Regions from separate parts of the Homo sapiens genome. Here region 2 is linked to region 1. The links come from fine-mapping of genetic effects on gene expression. A gene starts in region 1. The other region holds a variant in brackets. All regions are shown on one strand. Distances are between the middles of the regions. Region 1 holds the start of RGS9 (regulator of G protein signaling 9). Region 2 overlaps RGS9 (regulator of G protein signaling 9).

Evidence for each region. PIP is the estimated chance that this variant, and not a neighbour inherited with it, causes the effect.
Region 2: its variant is fine-mapped to the expression of RGS9 in unexposed skin (GTEx, PIP 0.98).

What each region holds. Positions count from the first base shown.
Region 1 is chr17:65,135,571-65,138,478 of GRCh38, forward strand. It overlaps RGS9 (regulator of G protein signaling 9), which reads left to right and starts at 1,800. Exons shown (of 19, transcript NM_003835.4): 1 at 1,800-2,027. The coding sequence starts at 1,971. RefSeq lists a silencer at 1,490-1,989.
Region 2 is chr17:65,162,806-65,165,713 of GRCh38, forward strand. RGS9 (regulator of G protein signaling 9) reads left to right here. Exons shown (of 19, transcript NM_003835.4): 7 at 208-284. Among named protein-coding and RNA genes, the nearest start is that of RGS9, 27 kb to the left of the region's middle. RefSeq lists enhancers at 1,110-1,309, 2,339-2,908 and a silencer at 1,600-1,659. The variant C/A (reference allele first, on the strand shown) is at 1,251.

The DNA of each region.
Region 1 (2,908 bases):
TTGCAAACTTCAGTCAGTGTTGTGTACATGTGCATGTGTGTGTGTTCCTGAGTGTCCATAGCTTTCATCAGATTCTTACAGGTAAATATCACCCGAGAGAATGGATAAGAACCACTGCTTTTTTTTTTTTTTGAGACAGAGTCTCACTCTGTCACCCAGGCTGGAATGCAGTGGCTCAGTCTTGGCTCACTGCAGCCTCTGGGTTCAAGTGATTCTTGTGCCTCAGCCTCCTGAGTAGCTGGGATTACAGGTTGCTCCACCATGCTGATTGATTTCTGTATTTTTAATAGAGATAGGGTTTTGCCATGTTGGCCAGGCTGGTCTTGAACTCCTGACTTCAAGTGATTCACCCGCTTGGGCCTCCCAAAGTGCTGGAATTATAGGCGTGAGCCATCACACCCAGCCAAGAACCACTGCTTTAAAGGGACATTGGTTGACTGTGCCTTCCTAAGGTAAAGGCCTTCTTGTTTTCTTCCAACTTAAACATTTTATCTGCTACACTCAATAACCATCGAGTATGTTTAAGAGAAAGTGCTTTATATAACAAAGCAGAAAGGCTCTTGATAATAACTTAGAGGCTTCATCCTTGCATTTTTCTCAAGATGAAAACGCTAACATAATGAGCTGTCAAGGTAGGTTCATCAATTGTAACAAATGGGCCACTCCAGTGGAGGATGTTGATCATGGGGGACGCTGTGCGTGCGTGGGGAGAGGGGATATATGACGTGTCCCTATACCTTCCGCTCAATTGTGCTGTGAACCTAAAACTGCTCTAAGAAATAAAGTCTATTAAAACAAGCAAACCAGCCAGCTGCAGTGGCTCACTCCTGTAATTCCAGCACTTTGGGAGGCCGAGGTGGGTAGATCGATTGAGCCCAGGAGTTTGTGAAACTCCCTCTCCACAAACAATTTTTGTAAAAATTAGCGGGGTGTGGTGGCACGTGCCTGTAGCCCCAGCTACTGGGGAGGCTGAGGTGGGAGGATTGTTTGAGCCTGGGAGGTTGTAGCTGCAATGAGCCATGATTACGCCACTGCACTCCAGCCTGGGTGACAGAGCAAGACCCTGTCTCAAAAAAAAAGTTAAACAACAACAAACCCAACAACCAACTAACCGAAACACTAAGAATCAGAGAAGTAAAATATAATTCGCTTCATCCAGACAGCTAGCCCGGTGAGGACTACAACCTTCCTCTCTTCCTTCTTCACTTCTTTGCTCTCTCTTTTTAAACCCACATCTTAGCAATTCCTCTGCTATTGGGTCATTAAATCGCCACCTCTAATTTTTTTTTCTAAGCATTTATTGAGGGCCAAGCACTGTGTTACACATCTCCTCATTAAAATGGTATAGCAACCTTTTCTGGTCGATATTATGATCCCATTTTTCAATTTTTACTTTTGAGTGAAGGACATTGATTCTTAGAGATTGTAAGGAACTTGCCCAAGGCTGCCGGCTGGTTAGTGGCAGAGCTGGGATGGGAAAGTCCGTATTTTCCACCGCGCTGTATTAGTGAGGGCTCTTTGTGTCACTTCTGTGCATAACTCCGCCCCAAGTTAAAAGGCTCGCTGCTCTCGACAGGTCCTCCTCCTCCTCCCGCTAGGTCCTCCTCCTCCTCCCGCCAGGTCCTCCTCCTCCTTCTCCTCCCGGGGCCCTGCCCTGCGGGTCTCACCTGCTGCTCCGCGGGGTCCCGGCGGGGGCCGGATAGCGCCCCCTGGCGGCAGGTGGGCGCCCGCGCAGCGCATGCTAATGAGCCCGCGGCGCCGCTCGCGGATTGGCTGGCGCGGATTCCAGCTGCTTTCCAAGTCAGCGGCGCCTAGTGAGAGTCAGGGGGGCCCGGCCCGCGCCCTCCCCGCCCAGCCGCCTCCCCGTCGACGCCCAGGGCTGGGGCGAGCCAGGCTGCCTTTCGAACTTGGGGGGCTTCTCCTCTTGTCTCCCACTGGTGCTCTGGCTGTGAATCCATCCAGGGGCCAGGATGACAATCCGACACCAAGGCCAGCAGTACAGGCCGAGGATGGCATTTCTCCAAAAGGTAACCCTGGCCCCTCACCTGGACCCTGGGAGGAGGGCGGGGGACCGCATCTGCGAAGCGTCCGAGGACAAGAGGGGCAGGAGTGGAGAGCACCCCTTTGGGTCGATTTGTGCTGCTCGATTTTATTAAGTGACTTCTTTGCTGTGTGTGTCGATATTGATGGCTATAATAATTAGGTTTTCGTGTGCCCTGCCTGTAGTGGAGAATCTGAAGCCAGCGCTGATGGTCTGCGGGAGGTGAAAACAACCTGTTACTCGGGAGAGGCAGGTTCAGTTCAGGCTGTGGCAGATTTGAGACAGCCTGCTGATATTGTTGTAAGACGACCAGATGTGACATTGCCATTTTTGCCTTTTTTTTCTGATCCCAAACTGCACTATTTTAAAGTGTGTGTGTGTGTACACATAGACCATGAAAACGGGGTGATTTGTAGGATAAAGGGCCACCCCATTTACAATGCCCTGAGAGCCCTCATTTGAGTGTGTCTATCTGTGCATCTCCTGCTGTCTGCGCTGGCGGCAGAAGTCCCAACCTTTTCGCTTCCCTTGCGAATGCTTTCCCAGACAAAGTGACCGGGCACAGGGTGTGCACACAGGATGGACATGTGGGAGGTGGAATGCACCTGTGGGGTGATGTGTTTGGGGACAAAGTGGTTCATTTAGTTCTGAGCTTCTGGTATAATCACTGTCCGATGAGATCTACAGAGGATTAGGTCCCGGGTCACATCTTTGTCCTTCCTCCCACCCGTAGCCACTTTTCACAGCGTAGTGTCCATCTTCTTAGGCTTATCTTGTTGAGTAGAATTAGTTGAATGTTTTGTGACAAGCTGAGCTCTCCCTGAGCCCCTGGAGCTCAGCAAATTTGTATAGTCAGTGACCGCTGTC
Region 2 (2,908 bases), 27 kb after region 1:
TAAAAGTGAGGCTTCTTGTGAAAGTGTTTTGAGAATTCAGCTGCTCCTTGAGTGAACACCATGGTAAAACCAGCTTAGATACCATCGGGCTGGGTCCATGGTTGCCATGAGCCAGGGGTGTGCCCTTGCTGACTTAGAGTTTGTTGCCCTGCGGCACATGGCATATGTCTTGGGGCTTTCTGTTCTCATTTTGTTTTTCTTCTTTAGGAAAATTACAATTTCTTGAACCAAAAAATGAACTATAAGTGGGACTTTGTCATTATGCAGGCCAAAGAGCAGTACAGGTGAGTGAAAGGAGACCATGCTTGTCCTCTCGGTGTCTTTCCTCCCTCTCTTCCTTCTTTGTTTCTTTTTATTTATTTTATTTTTTATTTTTATTTTTTTTTTGAGACAGAGTCTTGCTCTGTCGCCCAGCCTGGAGTGCAGTGGTGTGATCTCGGCTCACTGCAACCTCCGCCTCCTGGGTTCAAGCGATTCTCCTGCCTTGCCTCCCAAGTAGCTGAGATTACAGGCACCCAGCACCATGCCTGGCTAATTTTTATTTATTATTATTATTATTTGTATTTTTAGTAGAGACGGGGTTTCACCATGTTGGCCAGGCTGGTCTCAAACTCCTGACCTCGTGATCAGCCTGCCTCAGTCTCCCAAAGTGCTGGGATTACAGGCGTGAACCACTGCGCCTGGACTCTTTCCTTTTATTAAAATAAACTTGTTTTTGAGCATTTATGTGCCTAACACTGGGCTGCGCAGGGGGAATCAAAAGACACAGTCTCATAGGTCAGGCAGATGAAAGAATAGGCTATGGTGCTGCTGTGAGATGAGGGCCACCTGGCTGGGGTTTTCAGAAGGAATCGTAGAAATGGCATTGAACCTGGGGAATGCATAGGAGGGGTCCAGGTGAAGGATAGCAGTTGTGGAGGAAGAGGAGAGGTGTGGTGAGAGGAAGGGGCTCTCAGCAGGCAGAACCAGAGGCTGGAGGCAGGAGTGTGCCCACTGCAAGCAGTTCCTTGCAGCTGCATCTGAGAGTGCAAAGTATGGAATTAGGAAGATGTGAACTAGAGATGTTAGCAAGAGTGGATCGTGAGAGGGCTTTGTGGTGAGGGCCATAGGGAGCCATAGAATGATGTTTAAGCAGGGAAGGGATACACAGTGATCAGATTGTCATGTTAGAACCACGCCTCGTTCACTTGCATTTGCCTGTTGCCATATCAGAACTGGAACTGGAAGTCCCCTCCAGGGCTCTGCCTTAA[C/A]AAGAGCTGGATGCAGATATTGGGGACAGGGAGTGGTAGGGAGAGGGTGTGGTCAGGACAAGGTTAGCCTATCATTACAAACAGCCCCCAACTCTCAGGGGCTGGAAACCACAAGGTCCATTTCTTGCTGGTGCTCCTCATCCACCGTGGGGCAGCTGGGGCCCTGACATGCTTTCCCCACTTCCAGGACCCATATGCAGAAGAAGCAGCACCATCTGGGCTTTGTGCGTTGCTTAGCAGGGACAGGGATTTCCTGTGTGTATCAGAGCAGCCCTGTCATCCTGCTCATGAGTCACTAGGCAAAGCAGGTCAACGTCAAAGGTTGGTGGGTGGGGACATAGAATCCTACTAGGTGCCTGAGAAGAGGGACAGCTGGGAACATCTGGTGACCCGCACCAGTGATTACCAAAACCGATGATCCCCCCAGTCCAGCCTCACTCGCTGTGACAGTCCCAGATCCAGGAAGGTCTAGACTTGCTGGTGCTCAGCTGGGCTGGATGGGGAAGACCTGATTCTCACCCAGCAGCCTAGGTATTGGAGTAGTGATGAACACTGTTTATGGGAGAGCTGGTCCGGGAAAAATAGATTCTTATGGCGGAACAGCTTTATTGCCCTCCAGGGGGGAAAATATGTTCTTAGGGTTTAGAATCAGGTAGAACATCAGTGAGAGAGCTGCCACTGCTCATTAGCCACAAACATGTTTCTACCTGGGTACATTTGAGGCGAAACAACACGGGTTATCTTTAATCACTTATATTTGTTCATAAGGCTTCATTTGGTGAGTTTCTGGGTACTGTCTCACTTTATGTTGGTGTGGGGAAATACTTACCATAGTAATTATTGTCACCCTTCATTTCTACAAATGGGGAGACTGAGACTTAGGGAGGTGAAAATTACTTAGCTGAAGTCACTTGGTGAGATAATGGTAGATCTTAGGCTGATATTACTTAATTCCATTTGTTGCACCAGTTTTGAGTTTCTGATGGGTTCCAGCACTGGGCTGGGCTCCAGGGACACAGAGATGGGTAAGATGTGCCCCTCTCCCTCAACCCCTCCATCCCTTCTTCCTCCTGTCTGCTCTGAGCAGGACTATCCCAGCAACCCACAGGACTATGAACCCTGACATCTGCTTTCTTGGGCGCTCTGGGTGCTCTTGAAGCTTGGAGCTGTTCTCAGTGATCCCTGCAGGTCCACCACCAAGGCCTTGGACTCAGCTGCGATAAAGCTCTGTGCTGCCCAGGTCCTGGGACATTCCCCTCTTTCATTCTTCCAGGTGCCTTGGAATGAGCGATTCCTAAAAGGCTTGCTCCATTTGAGATGGCTTTTTCCCACTTATTTTATGGCTTAAAGGCTGCCTCTGATTTCAGATTTAGGGTCTCAGCACAAAACGTGGTTGACCATGTAGGTTGGCCCATAAAGTAGTCATTTTGTTATGCTGAGTCCTGTCTTCCAAGTTCCACACTCAGCACCCAGACAGCTACTCAAGATCTCATGTTGCTGTCAAACCTCAAACTTACCTTGTCCATATTCAAATATGTCTTTCCCTCACTCTCCAAACCTCTTCCTCCAGTATCACCCATATCAGTACCTCTACTGCCCCTACCCTGGTTGAACCAAACTCACCGTCACCTGAACCATGGCAACATCCTCCCAACTGG